Regions from separate parts of the Homo sapiens genome. Here region 1 is linked to region 2. The links come from fine-mapping of genetic effects on gene expression. Tissue or cell type: whole blood. Region 2 holds a variant in brackets; the other region holds the start of a gene. All regions are shown on one strand. Distances are from middle to middle.

Region 1 (8,116 bases), 57 kb before region 2:
ATACATAAACAAGGTAGATGGAGAGAGCTGGGAAGATTGTGAGAATGCAATTTTTTCCCCATTGTCTCTGCCTAGCCTTTCTCATATCACAGAATGACACGATGTTAAATGTGAAACCAGATCTCATTCAGCTCTCTTGTTTTGTAATATTAAAACTGTGACTCAGAGAGGTTAAATGACTTCCTCTCAAATCCCTTGAAGTTCCTGGCACAATCAGGTCTAAAATATAGGATTGCTTGACTTTCAGTCCAATGGCCATTCAATTAGTCACATCTCTATTCCTGTATTCCCTGACTTCTCCTCCTCAACTGTACCAGCTTTTCCAATAAAACTTGCTTGATCTAAATTGCTCTCCCTAGGCATTGTATATTTCAAGACAATCTTTCTGTTTTTTGAACTATATTTCCTTTTTCTGTAGTAACATCAGCTTCTCTGAAAAACATATCCATTGCCAAAGGATTAATTTTAAGTTTGTGTGTGTGCATGTGCATGTGTGTGTGTGTGTGTGTGTGGGTGTGTGTGCATCCTTTTACTTACAGCCTTATAATGAGAACTTCCCAATGTTTAAAGGAATACATCATTTAAGATATGATTTTCAAGAAACGCTTTTTGGGGCCTGTGTCTGCAACTGAAGAGACCAAAAGTCTGTAAAAGATTCTTTAAGTCTCCTAAGTATTAGTTCCTGAACTCTTTTAAGTTCTCAGCATTTTTCTTCTTTCCGATTTTTGTGCTACTTCACAATGCAACAGTTCTCTGTTGCAAGGTAGCAGTAGAATGTACCTCATTGGACCTGGATTTAGTTTACTCATTCTTTCCACTAAGGGAACAGGGCACCATCCTGGTTAGAACAGTGGCAGAACACCAGAGTGGTTAAGACCAATTCTCTTATGGAGCATGACATATCTGTTGAAATAACAAGTAGTAGAAAAATTTAGTAGTTCAGCAGTGATGTAAGAAGAATCTCTTTGAATGAGTAAACACAGGACTCATCCTAGCCACCAATCTCCAGCCAATAAGCACTTTTCAACTGTGTAACTATGAGCCAGTGACTACCTTTTCCTCAGTTTCTTCATTTGTAAAATAAGGATACTAAAAGTGACTCTTACAAGATTGCTGTATTAAATGAGTTAATACATATATAAAGTGCTTAAAATAGGGCCTAATCTATAAGAAGCCCTAAATACATGTTTGTTGCTATTGTAAATATTATGAACAAATACCTTTGATAAGGGTTTAAATGAATCAGCCTTGTTTAAAAGTCCATCTTACGCAGTTGGAGTTACTTATTCAAAATTAGGGCCTCTCACTGAGCTCTAAGCTTATCCTCTAGTGCAGATTTCAGGACCAGCTCTCTGGGATCCTCCCTCATTCTCTCCTTCTTTCTTAAAAATATATATTGCATAACTATTAGCACTGCAAAGCTCTAAGGAAAAATGATAACCCTATGTCCCCAATCTAGAGGAGCTTCCCGCACTCAAATTGGGGGAAGTTTTTTTTTTTTTTTTGAATAGATTCTTCCAGGCAACATAGGACCAGGGATCCAGCAGGCTTTTTTCTTGTCCTTAATGAGTAGCTCACAATCTTTATCCTTAGGAAACACAGAGCAAATGATATATTACAAATGAGTAGGCTATGTTTAAATATTTAAGAGATTACTATTTAATTTTAAAGAGTCTCAAACTCTTTAAAACTATAGATGAAAGGTCCTACTTCCAACTTTCTACATCAGAATACCTGAGGATGAGACTAGGCTTTTTTTTTTCCTTTTTCCAAATCACATATAATTCCCACATGCAATCTGAAAAAGCAACCAAAATGCAGAATCTTAGGTCCCACCCAGGTCTACAAACTAAGAATCTGCATTTAAACAAGACCTTCAGAAGATCTGTATAGACATTAAAAACGGGAAAGCACTGGCCTGTGGCAGTCTTTCTTTCTCAGGATGGTGGTAAACAGATCACCCCTATGTCAGAACCACCTGGGATGCTCCTTTTAAAAAGTATACTTTTGTATCCTACCATAGACTGAGTGAAACAGACTCTCTGGGTTGGAGTCCCTTGAAACTGCATTTCAAACAAACTTCTCTCCCTGACACTTGGGCAGTCTAAAGTTTGAGAGTTACCAGAGTAGCATTTAAAAGCACTATATGTTTTGTCATTTTCATGTATATGATCCCTTCATGAGGCTAAAATCACTGAGCAAGACATACCTAGAGTTATAAACCAATCAAACACTGCATTTGCACACACGGAGAGATATATACACACATGGCATTAGAAATAACTGCAAATAAACTGTCTTTAATACTAGATCAAAACTATCCAAGAAGGTTCCCCTGAGCATCTGCAATGAAATGCAGATTAACCAGTTAATTGTGTCAGAGGAGAGAGAGAGTAAATTATGTATAATGACATCATTACACCTCTTGTACTCTTGTCTAAACATTCCTTGCTTGTACTTTCTTGAAACATCATTAAAAATCCATTTGATTCTAATAAGTTACTTCCAATACAAGTAAAAGTACCTCAGTATTTATCAGATGTGAAAAGAAAATAATCAAATCATCAAAATATGTTATTATTCCTCTTCTTCATAGTGATAGTCTTTACTAATATTTACTAAAGGTGAATCTCCCTTCAAATACCAAGCTGAAAGGCATTACTCTGGTCATGTGGTTCCATAAAAGAGGCAGTCAATCTTTTGGATATTTAGAAAATCCAATTGAGTACAATTTTCTCTTTTTCTCTGAGTGTTTGTCATGAGAAAAGCACAACTCAAACTCGATTTTGTCCAAATTATCCTTGCAAACATCCAGATACTATGAAATGTGTATTATATTCATCTCAACTTAGATCTAGCTAATATTTTAGAATTACAAAATACTTTGTCTTAAACTATTAAGAATATCAACAAGAATAACACATAGGACTTTATTTTTTCTGACTTAATGCTCCCCCAGGGAGTTGAACAGACAAAACAGAAATATATTAACAGGGATAGAAAATTGCATCTGAAAAGCATGAGTAACTTTTAACATCTTTGGAACTCTGCTTTCAGAAAGGTGATGTACCTCAGAGTATAGGATTCCCATGCTGGTCCTTCACAGGCTTACTTCACCTCTACAGCTCCTTGAATCTTCTGGAGGTATTTCTGATGAATATCAAAATCCTTCCTGGCTGAGAGGAAAGTCCCTAGAAGTCCAAGCTGGTGGCAAGCTCCAGGAGTGCTTTTCTAGCAAACACCTGTCAGTGCTTTTCCAGCAGCTCAGGCAGCAGCACACCTTCCAGAGAGCCCAGCCCAATGAAACAAAGGCACTGGTGTCATGTGTAACGACCCAAGCCTGTATCATCTAATGTTACAACCCTGAGGAGCCGGTTTCTGAGTCATATTTGCTCTGCCAGTGGTAACATGCAGGAAAGAAGGAAGCAAAGTTAAGGGAGGAAGAAAAGTTCTTACATTGGCAGGAAGGACTCACGGTTCAAACCAAGATACTGTATTTCAGACATTTCGTAATCAAAATCTGGTTTTCAGTGGCCATTGAGAAAGGCTAGAGACCAACAAACTTACTTGTGAGAGCCACACGTGTCTGGCAAAGAACTTGAAAAATAATCTTCAAAATTCTCAGCCTAACAAGTAACGCTTTTCCAGCTATTTATGCAGTTTTGTAAACTAATAAATTTACTAACATAATAAATCTTAAGTTGTTTTAAATATTCCAATACTATTCACACATTTAGCCAAATTACTTTATAATATTCAATTTAAAAATCATAAGTCTAAAATCAAATACTCTGTTATGCATTTTAAATTGCATCATCAATTTATTTATCAAACATGCTAGTATGCCCAATCTCTTAAATATTGTAAACATTTTATATGCTATATATGATATCATTCACACATTTTCCTTGAACTGAATACAATCACATCAAACTTTCCCAGAATTGAAACACTCGACCGTCCACACACCCATTATAACCATGGGACCAGCCCAAATGGGCCGTACTTTGTTGATAACAAATGTCAATTTACTCTGTAGATATAACAGAGCCAAAAACTGTAAGTCATTTAGCCCAGGCATGCACAATAAAAATGTTTTTGCCTCTAACAGAACCTAGAACAAATGATCCCTCCCCTGGGAACCAAGAAGACAAGGACATGACGGGAACCTAAATGCAGGACCTCTTTCAGAAGCTAGGGGCTCATTGGCCCAAAAGATCCAGGGCTGAAATCTGCCTCAACATACCTTACCTTTAGTGGTCAAATTTGAAGCCCTTCAATCAGTCCCTGCCAAACCAACATTCCTAAATCCTTTCCCTCACCCTCTAAGCCATACATTTTCTCAGATTCCAAACTGGGGAGGCAGATTTGAGCCCACCTCCTGTCTCCTTGCTGACCTGTCTTGCAATAAAGTTTTTCTTTCCTCAAAACCCAGTGTCCAGATATTGGCTTCTGTGAGCAGGGGGCAGCAAGCCTATTTGCTCAATAATATCATGGAAGAAATAGTTCAACCATCTCAAACCAATTGATGTGATTTTCCCAATCAGTTGAGGCTCCTTAGTGGCCAGAAACTAGTGACCAGGATACTAGGCCTGTGCTTATAAATATTCAGGGAAATTCTTCTTACTCCACTGGTGGATATACTGAGCTATTTTTATAATTATTTCAAAGATTTTATGTTTCACTATGCAGTTGACATCGAGGCCAGCCTCTCTGGAGTTTAAGAATTAGCTAATTCTTCCGTTGGAGGAGAGGGAAGTCTGCAATACCCACTAAAATTGCAGCTGACTTCCTCTTTGGCTTGGTTTGATTTTGTATTTCTGTAGACTCTTAAGACATTTAAGTGTCTTCCCATTGACTTAGAAAAACATTAATGGTATATCCATTGGGTACTTCACTCTGTTATGCAATATTTTGTAACCTCTGGTAGCCTCTTTTGTAACCTCTTTCAACTAATTTGTGTGGACAGAACTCTTCACTGTCATTGCTTCTCTCCTAAGGTTGCTGCTAGCTTTCTTCTTCAAGCTCTTTCCTCCCTGACTGAGCTCTAAATGTTTCTTTAACTTTCAATCAGGATCAAAACTCATTTTATTAGATTCTGCATCTCTTGACAACATCTGGTTCTAAAGGAACAGTACTCATTATAATTGCAAATGATGTAGGGTTAGCTCAAAAAACAAACCAATGAAAAAAGCAGTTGACTCATTGTTATTTGTAAAACACTTGGATTTAACTCTAGGCCATTGGGTCTCAACCAGGGGTTATCTCGCCCCCAGATAGACTGCAGATTTAGCAACGAAAAAGATAAGATGTTCAGTTAAATTTGAATTTCAGATAAATTTCTGAAATGTCATATGGGACATACATACACTAAAAAATTATGTTGCTTAATGGAGAACGTCGTTTTATTGGAAACTAAAGACATTTGGCAATGTCTGGAGACATTTTTGGTGGTCACAACTAGGAGTGGGAGCATGGTACTCTAATGTGGGGAGCAGAGGCCAGGGAAGCTGCTAATCATCCTACAGTGCACAGGACAGCCTCTCAGAGCAAAGAATTACCCAGCTCAGAAGAGTGCTAATGTAGAGAAACTCTAGTCTAAGCCAAAAGGAGAATTAAAGGTGAAGGAAGAGGACTTCGTAAACTATAGTGTCAAATTGGAATACGGAGGCATATTGTCAGAATGAAGTTGGATAAACAGATATATTTTTAAGTGTTTAGGGTTCTTCCTCTGGCAATTTTGAGCCTATAATTACAAAGACAGGTAAAGAAAAGAAGTTCCAGAAAACAGCTTTCACAGGTAAATGTCTTCTGTCAAGAAATAACACTGTCAAGAAGACAAATGTCTTCTGTCAAGAAATAAACCTAGTGTTTAATCTGAATTAAACACTAGGGACTTAAAATTAGTGGCATCCTTTGATCCTGGCTGTAAATGCAGCCAACCTCCACTGACCAGCAGCCAACTGTCTGTGAGAGATGAGTCTCTTGTAAGGTGTATCCCAAAGACTTCCCCCCAAGAGGGGTTCAGTAGAGCATAACAAAGAAGTATAGTCCACAGAAACTCAGTTTTACGCTGATATCTTAATCCTTCAACATTATCTAACATTGTCCAACATTGACATTAGCAGTGGAAGTTATCTGAGTCACACGGCACCAAAATATGTCACCAGCCAGCAGTGAATCTGTGTGGGTTTGCAGCAAACTCAATTCTTGCCTTCTCAGAAGAAAGAATTCAACTGGGGGCCATAGGATGGAAGAAGAGACCAAGGCAAGTTTTAGAGCAGGAGCGACAGTTTATTAAAAAGCTTTAGAGCAGGAATAAACAAAGTAAAGTACATTTGGAAGAGGACCAAGTGGGCAACTTGAAAGACAAGTGTGCAGTTTGACTTTTGACTCGGGGTTTTTATACGTTGGCATACTTCCAGGGTCCTGCATTCCTTCTCCCCTGATTCTGCCCTTTGGTGGGCTGTCCACATGTGCAGTGGCCCACCAGGATTTGGGAGGGGAGCATGCACAGTGTGTTTACTGGAGTTGTATGCATGCTTACTTGAAGCACTCTTCTCTTACCAGCTGAATGTCCCTAGAAGGTAATATACCAGTTAAACTCTGCCATTCTGCCTCTTAATGTGCATGCTTGAACCCACTCGCCCAACTCCTGAGATCTTATCAGGAAGCTGCTGATCACCAGTTTCAAGTTTTTTCTGTCTATTGGGAGACTGCCTTTCCCTGGCACTGGCTGTGACCAATTGTTATTTTATATATATATATATATATATATATATATATATAATTTTTTTTTTTTTGAGATGGAGTCTTGCTCTGTTGCCCAGGCTGGAGTGCAGTGGTACAATCACAGCTCATTACAACCTCCACCTCCCAGGTTCAAGCGATTCTCCTGCCTCAGCTTCCAGAGTCGCTGGGATTACAGACACCTGCCACCTGTATTTTTGTATTTTTAGTAGAGACGGGGTTTCACCATGTTGGCCAGGCTGGTCTCAAACTCCTGACCTGAGGTGATCTGCCCACCTCGACCTCCTAAAGTGCTGGAATTGCAAGCATGAGCCACCACGCCTGGCCCTCAACTATTATTTTAGAGAGACGGTTAACAACCTCCTTACTATCACCTGATGTTCACCTGACATTCCTGGTGGGTGGGGGGAGCCCTCTCCTACTCTGCTCATGTCTGACTAGCTACTTACTGTAAAATTGGCTCCCATTGGAGAGATTTGAGTAGAGGAGTGTTGTAATCAGAATTTTATTTATATAATAAAGCTCACTCTGGCTGTTGTACAGAGAGTGGATCTGAGGCAGGAAAAAAGAAACAGCAACTAGTTAGGAGGTTATTGCATTAGGTCAGCTGCATGATAATAGTTACCTGGGGCAGAAGAGCAGCAGTGTGGATAGAGAGAATAGGATAAACTCTAGAGTTTAGGAGGTAGAAATAACAGACTTTGCCAACTATGAGTTATTAAGCTATCTCCTAGCATTGAACACACTTTTCTATGTTTGGTTCTTCAATGCCTACCCTGGCATTCTGCAAGCTAGCTTTTTTTTTTTCCTACTGGTATGTGGAGACAAAATTAACTTCATCTTGGATGCTAATCCACCATGTTGACTTCTCATTAACCCCAGTCCCATAAATGCCTTCGGATTCCTACTTTATTTACTGTCCTTAGTGTAAGAACACATACTTACTGTAAATCCTGCCTTTAGACCAAAGCAAACTTGATGTTATCACACAAATATAGGTTATGATGCACACAGCACTCTTGCCTGTTCTGGGGGGTTGTCTTTAATTGTCTCTATAGAGCATGTATCCCCTTTCCTTATGATATATAAGCCCGGGGTCTGGGGTGTATTGGTGTGGAGATCTATTTGTCTTGCTACTGCAGGCCACACTTCTGTCTGTAAGTTCCCCCAATAAATTACCCTTTATCAAAAAACTGATTTTGTCTGCCTTATTATTTGGTTTCTTGGCTCCTTCCTTGTTTGGAGATTGCTTTGCATATATGACCCTTTCTTGAAACCTGGTCTATTTTCTAAGGAGCACTCCATGTGAGATTACAACGCTAAAGAGGGAGAAAGAGATCTACTCATTTCTATATGCTTGCAATCC
Region 2 (8,000 bases):
GATATGAGGAGCAATGATATTTTACCTAAAATGACCTGAAACATTTGCATACCCTGAAACCTAAAGTGAGATCCCACTCCAATAAAACTGTATGTTTACCTTGGAGGTTTGTCTTTTTGTTGTATAAACCATGTATTTTTGTTGTATAAAGCATGTTTAAGCAAAAATGCTTTACTTTGATTATATCATTAACTTATGAAAAGATTTCCTTAGGTAATGGTGTTAGGTTCCTCATAAAGAACATATGTCCATAATATTAGTCATATCCTTTTCTTACTATAATCAACAGTTAATCAGAGATTTAAATTTTGCTTTGCAGAAAAAGTTAGCTGCTATGCCTGACCATACAGATGTTTCCCTAAGCCCAGAAGAGCGAGTCCGTGCCCTAAGCAAGCTTGGTTGTAATATCACCATCAGTGAAGACATCACTCCACGACGTTACTTTAGGTCTGGAGTAGAGATGGAGAGGATGGCGTCTGTGTATTTGGAAGAAGGAAATTTGGAAAATGCCTTTGTTCTTTATAATAAATTTATAACGTAAGTGTTTTAAAGGCCTCTGAAGTGAGAAAATTGGAAAAATATTTACATAGTTATTTTGATGTGGCAGTTTGGGTATCAGTAATGTTTTCATATTCAGACCAATTGCACAGTCTCTAGGAGCATTAAATGTTCAAGTTTTTAAATTACCAACTAATGTACTCACAGGCATCCCAACACCATCTCTGAGGCTTAGGGTCAGGGAGGGCAGGAGGCTCAGGGTTATCAGATTTCCTTTCCAAGGCCAGCATAGTAATCTATTTAATACATGTTTCACTCTTCTTAAATATAATTTATTTTTTCATGCGATTTTCCCCGACAGAAATGGAAGCTTTATGAGAGCAGGAACTACAGTGCAGCTCCATTTATAGCACCTAGAACATGCCATCAACATTTAAAAAATTTGATTTGGTGGGTTGAGTCTAGGGGACAAGTTGGGAGACACAGGAAAGATCTGATTCAGGTTCAGGGATAGGTTCAGGAAACTCATTCAAGTTTCATATAGCACTTATTATTTCTTTTTAAAAAACATTTTATTTGGCTATTAAGAACACTATGTACAAAAGAGCTGTCAAAATGTTGAGTAAAAGTGGCTACATCAAAACAGCCATGTCAGAGTATCATGTTTCCTATTAGACAGATATTTGTTAGTGACATATCCTAGTTTAAGAGTTAACAGAAATGGGACTTCGTCTTTCCTTACTATAAATCTGGTAACTTACTAGTTGAAAGGATGTCCTGTCATCAATAATTATATCTTCTAAGATGAACCTTCTTTTTTTTAATTGAAAGTCACATGCCGATTACTTTTGCTAGCTTATTATTTATTAATTTTATTTAAGTTGACAAATAAAAATTATATGTATTTGTGGTATGCAACATGTTTTGATACATATATGCTTATATTGTGGAATGACCAAGTCAAGACAATTAACATATTTATTACCTCACAGACCTTTTATTGAGACAGGGTCTCCCTGTTGCACAGGCTGAGTGCAGTGGCACAATCATAGCTCACTGCAGCCTCGACCTCCCTGGCTCAAGTGATCCTCCCACCTCAGCCTCCCGAGTAGCTGGGACTACAGGCATGTGTCACCATGCTCAGCTAATTTTTTATTTTTGTAGAGATGGGATCTTACTATGTTGCCCAGGCTGATCTCCAACTCCTGGATGCAAGTGATCCTCCTGCTTTGACCTCCCAAAGTCCTGGGATTATAGGCATGAGCTACTGTGCCAGACCCAAGCTGCATAATTATGCAATACATTGTTATTAAGTATAATCATCATATACACTGGACCTCCTGAACTTATTCCTCCTGTCTAACTGAAATTTTGTATCCTTTGACCAACATCTCACCCCCATCCTCAACTGCTGGAACTCTGATAGCTACCAGACTACTCTCTGCCCCCCTGTGAATTCAACTATTTTAGATTCCTTCTACATTGTAAGTGAGATCATGCAGTATTTGTGTTTCTGTGCCTGGCTTATTTCACATATAATATCACTAGCTTAGTCAGGGGCTTAGCCTGAGAACATTTAAGAAGTTGAAAGATACAATATTTTAAAAATTGCCTTCCATGATTCTACCGAGGGCAAAATTAAAGGCAGTTTACATGGTATGCAAAAATTGAGATCTGCATTTTATTCAAGTTACTGAACTTGAAAATTTAGAGAATGGTTGGCAACCTTCACCCTACCTGGGAAAATCACTTGTTTTTAGAAAGTTAAGTAATAAATATGAAATTAGAAGTTATTCTCCACCATTGATAGCCAAACTTTTCCAATAATTTTTGTTTCTGAATAAGTTACCAATTAATAATATTTCTTTTTCACCTTCTGCTCTGATCTTGCATATGTTCCTATGGAATTGTGAGCCTGGTGAAAAGGAAAAGGCCCCTATATCTCAGAATTACTGTGTAATCAAAATATTTGAATTCTCTTGTATTATTAGTTGTATGATAATTTGTAATTCACTTATTCTTCCTGGGCCTTAGTTCCTCATCTACAAATGAAAGATTTATGGGAGAAAATCTCTGAGGTCCCCTCTGCTCTAAATGTCTTTGAATTTATTCTATTTATAAAGGCTTAGATAGCTAACAACTTTTAAAGCTTCTTTAAGCCTTAATTTTCTCATTTAAAATGGGAATTATGCTAACATTTCTGTCTAACCTATAACCTTGTGATCAGATGAAATTAAATGATGAGTATATGTGTGTATGATTTGATTTACAGAATCAGTAAGTATAAGGCATATTGTTTGATCAGAAATAGCATTTACAGCTCATTATGATTTATCAAGGAAGGGTTATTCATTCATTTTGCAAATATTTATTGAGCACTTATTATGAGCTGGATGCTATTCTTCAGGCTGAGGATACATCAGTGCATAAAAAAGAGAATTCCCTGCCTTTGTGGTAGCAGTTTCTTCACTTTACCTGGAAGCGATGCACCTGGTTTGCTGTAGGAATTTCCTTTCACTGCTGCTGTCTCTTGTTCCTCAAACGGTGACGAAAAATAATGAATTCCTAATTAGCAACTCCTAATTCACTAGGGATTCTGGTTGTCACTTTTCTTAGTTATGAGTTTTCGGTTAAGAGTTTTTTGATACACGATGGCGCTGCTGATTCATCAGTGGTCGTTTGAGTTTTTTTCAAGAGTGAGAAGGGATTTACATCACTCTTTCCATGCTCTGATATTTTTATGTGATTCTCTCTGTTGCCAGCAGTATGCTAAAGTAAGGTGGTGCTCTTTTGGGGCTAAGCATGCAGTACCTGAGAAAGATCAAAGTGACTTGAACTGTTTGGAAAGTACCCTGACCTTAATCTTGTTAGCTTTGGTGCTTAGTTGGTTGAGCTTAACCATTAATACCAAAATAATACTCATGCCAGACTTTAGTGAAAAGGCAGATGGCAAGACTGAAGGTAAATGAATAAGTTATTAAACATGTCATTTTTGAAAAAGGATCCTCATTCCCTTATTAGAAAGCATTATTGAACTTTTGCTGTCACATAATGCTAAGGACATGTTTTCTCTTCCTTAGCTTATTTGTAGAAAAGCTTCCTAACCATCGAGATTACCAGCAATGTGCAGTACCTGAAAAGCAGGATATTATGAAGGTATTGTGGGTTTTCTTCTCCACTGTGGAATCAAATGCTCCATAAGTATCCATTATTGATTCACCCTTCCCCTTCCTCCCCTTTCTCTTTCTCTTGAGAGTTTGAGCGCAAGAAATTCATTCCATTAACTATGATGTTTCGATTTTTTCTTAGACATTTAATGATCATCACTGAGCCAGTGTGGTTTGTCTAATTGATGCTGGGGGAAAAGAAAGAAATACGTTACCTAATAGTGTGAGGAAGGAATTATTTTACAATAATCTCTCCCAGAGGTTAAGAGAATGTTGTGTATTTCTGCGAACTTCTTTCAGATGGTCATTTTGGCTGCTTTTGATTATTTTATACAGCCCTGAACTCAATAACTGTTTGAAAATTAGTGTTAGTTATTAAGGCAGCCACAAAGTTCTAGCTATTTACATCTTATAGGACTGGAATTATAGATTAGAAAGTGTTGTGGGGGAAGCAGGAGGTGGTAGACTAAAATACTATAAAGGAAAAAGAGTGTTGCAATTTATCATCAATTTTTTAATGATTTATCACCAATAATTGCTATATCTATAATTTTGGTTATGTCTAGCTGTGAATATATTCTTTTAAATAAACATTTACAATGTTTCCCATTTATTTGTCTTTAATAGTTTGTGTTGGTCTTATATGAAGGAAGATAAAATCATGTACACAAAGCCAATT[G/A]TAGCATGAAATTTTAAATAATTTTTGAAAAACACTTTACCAAATAATGAAATAAAGGCTTTCCTATGAGTATTTTCAGACCTGAGGATGCATAAGCAAAATGCAGATTTTGTCAAATGGTCATCTACATTATTTATTTATTTATTTATTTAGAGTCAGAGTCTTGCTCTGTCACCTAGGCTGGAGTGAAGTGGCGCAATCTCGGCTCACTGCAACCCCCGCCTCCTGGGTTCAAGCAATTCTCTGCCTCAGCTTCCTGAGTAGCTGGGATTACAGGCACCTGCCACCATGCCCAGCTAATTTTTGTATTTTTAATAGAGATGGGGTTTCACCATGTTGGCCAGGCTGGTCTTGAACTCCTGACCTCAAGTGATCCACCTGCCTCTGCCTCCCAAAGTGTTAGGATTACAGGTGTGAGCCACCGCACCCAGCCAACTTTTTTAATGTCTACAGTCACTTACCTGAAGTATCATTTATTATCATGTCTTTGTGTAACATTTCCCCTCAGTTCTCTTGTTCATTCAACCTCAGAGAGTTCTGTTTGGAAACCAAAGGTACCAGGCTGTCACGGTGACTCATGTACTATAACTTAGGGTTATGCTTATTTTTTTTGTAGGAGAAAAATTCTCCAAAACCATATACATTTCCCTTGTTTATGCTTATTGAATAGATATATGAATAAATACATAAATGAATGACAAAGGATTAAGAGAATAGAAATTTGGTGAAAGAGCTAGAGTCAGGAGACTTGAGTTCCAGTCCTAAATGGGCCGCTAGCTGGTTGCATAATACCGAACAGGACTTTCAGTCTCTCCAGGCCTTTGTATCCTCAACTCTAAAAAAGAAGAGGTAGTTGGACTATATAAGAATTCCCAGATTTTCCTGCCATTAACGATCTCTGAGGAAGCTGTTTGAGATCCAGATTCCCAGACCCCTTCTCTACAGGTGTTAATTCAGTAGATCCAGATTAGGCTTGGGGGGGTCTGTATTTTTATAAAAAGTGCCTCAGCTATTCTTTTTACAGTCTAGCATGTCTGGAAATCCCTATCCACCATATATTCTCTCACATCCCTTCTAATTCTGATGCTACATGATTTATGTACTATAGAACAAGTCATTGATCTCAAACTCACTGCCTAAAAATGGGGTACCACAAAGGTAGCCACAAAGTTCTAGCTATTTACATTTTATAGCATTGGGCTATAACAAAATGCTTATCCAATCAGTGGGGCCAATAAAGGTCTTACAAAAGGGATAATAGTGTTTCTTTCCTGCTGGAAAGTTATATTTTGGACCCATAAAAAAGAGATTTATTTTTCTGCCATCATCTTTGGTTACTCATGACTTTATTTGCAGTATACCTACCAGCTGTTTTTCTTTCTCACCTGATGATCTGAAAGAGTGTATTGAAAATCCCACTAATCAATATGTATATATATTTTTAAAAGAAACTGAAGGAGATTGCATTCCCAAGGACAGATGAATTGAAAAACGACCTTTTAAAGAAATATAACGTAGAATACCAAGAATATTTGCAAAGCAAAGTAAGTTCAGTTGGTACATTTATTTCATGACTATTTTATGTACAAGTATTTTTTGAATTTCATTTTTATGTGATGAGTTTTTCAAATGTTTTGTGCATTTAAATTAAAAATTAAAGATGCAGTGATATGGAACCAATAAAAAATTTATGCTGATATCCAGGTTAAGCAGTTTCACCAACAATGTGGTATTTCTATTTCCCTACAATATCTAACAAAGCAATGTGTTAGAAAACAGATTTCCTGCAGCGATTTAAGTAGAACTTTTTGATTAACTCTTGAGCCAGATAACCTTGAGCCAGATGGCTGCTCTTTTGCCAGATGAACAGCCAGTAGGAGGTAGGGAGAGCAGTATATGGTTTCTGATGTGCCTAATGATGTAGGCCTTAGAAATGTGAATTTGATTCTTAGAATGTTACAGTCAGTATTGCATTGAGATAGAATAACAGCTAACCTTGTGGTTGAAATGTAATCATATCACCCAAAAGTGGTGGCTTCTGGATTGTTATTAATAAAGAGTGAACATTATGATAATGTCTGAGAGGCAGAAAGGCATTGGAAGAAGAAATTGGCCAGTGAATGTATGGGATACTCACGTTCAACATAGCATCATTATAGATGTTATTTTGCTTTTTTGTTTGTGTTTTATTTGCTTTAGGGGTTACCACCTTCACTGACTCTCACTTCAGTTCAATCTCATCATCTCTGAGAATGCTCATTGAGCTTTTTGACTTTCTATGGGCATAGGTGGAAGGCTGGCTTGAGTGGAGAGTTTTAACGAAGTGGTAGAGGGAATGGTGAAATTGGAAATGTCCCTCAAGTGTGTATATTAATAATGTGACTTGAAATATGAAAGATAGAAATTTTCTTGGAGGGTAAGACAAAGCAACAACAGCAAGGGAGACGAAAGCCCAGTTCAAGTCTCCTTTCCACGGTCAGCAATGTGTATGATCTTCCTCTTCATGATCTTCCTGGGAGGAACAGGCTCTGCAGCTGTTGCATGTTTTGCCTTTGATACCAGTCACTTCATAGCCTACAGTGGTGACCCATGTGGGAATCTCTGTGGGTTTAGAATAGCAGGACTGAGCCTAGGAGAGATAAACAGCAATGCCTGTGAGCCCTTGCTTCACCAGCATTAGCATCATTTGGAAGCTTGTTAGACACGCAGAATCTCAGGCCCCACCCCAGACCTGCTGAATCAGGATTTGCAACTGCAATTAGCCCCAGGATGATTTGTATGCACCTGAATGTGCCACTATAAGCTGTGTCCCCCATGCTACCGCCATCTTACAGTAGCTCCCAAATCTAGTTTCTATCAAAATCACCTGAAAGGCTCATTAATATTTCATATTATCTGACCTAATAAGCCTGGATATTTTGTTAGAACTGGAGAGCTTGGGACTCCTCCTTTTTAGCAAAACTCTGGGTTAGTGGTGACAGAGAAGGTTGGAACACATTTTAATAACCATTTTTTAGTGATTCCTTCTTATCCATAAATTTCCAGCAGAGTATGAGTTCTAGAGTCAAATGCGAAAGGTTCTAGGGCAGCACTGTTCAATAGAACTCCTGTGATGATGGAAGTGTTCTGTTTGGCACTTTCCAATATGGTATCCACTAGCCACATGTGGCTTCTGGGTACTTAAATGTGACTGACTAGTGTCCCTGAGGTACTGAATTTCTAATTTTGTTTAATTTTAATCAAGTTCAAATAACCACATGTGGCTAGTGGCCACTATATTAGAAGTGCAGTAGGGGTGAGATATTTTGTTTCATATGGTCTTGTTGGTCTGACTGAGCAAACAACCTTGACGTTGATTTTCCAGTATTTAAAAGCATTAGGGAATGAAGGGATCCTGATTGTCATGGCCTGTCTCTGGTAAAATATCAGTGGATTTAGAACTGCTATGTTAATCAGATCAAGGGGCTTTTGCCCTGATGTTATGTATTTCTCTCACTGTTCCATGAGTGTCCCTGTGGGCATATCACAGTATCTAGCATTTTCTCTGTCTGCTTGAAGACTGAAAATGTCTAATTCCAGTTCAATGTTTCTCCTTGGAAACTAACCTTCTCTTCTGGCTGCCACACTTTTTAGAACAAATATAAAGCTGAAATTCT

What was found. PIP is the estimated chance that this variant, and not a neighbour inherited with it, causes the effect.
Region 1: ANKRD22 starts here. The variant in region 2 is fine-mapped to the expression of ANKRD22 in whole blood (INTERVAL, PIP above 0.99).

Annotation. Positions count from the first base shown.
Region 1 is chr10:88,848,517-88,856,632 of GRCh38, forward strand. ANKRD22 (ankyrin repeat domain 22) reads right to left here and starts at 3,328. Exons shown (of 6, transcript NM_144590.3): 1 at 3,071-3,328. The coding sequence starts at 3,091.
Region 2 is chr10:88,905,124-88,913,123 of GRCh38, forward strand. STAMBPL1 (STAM binding protein like 1) reads left to right here. Exons shown (of 11, transcript NM_020799.4): 3 at 320-537; 4 at 3,579-3,654; 5 at 5,793-5,888; 6 at 7,978-8,000. Among named protein-coding and RNA genes, the nearest start is that of ACTA2-AS1, 24 kb to the right of the region's middle. The variant G/A (reference allele first, on the strand shown) is at 4,345.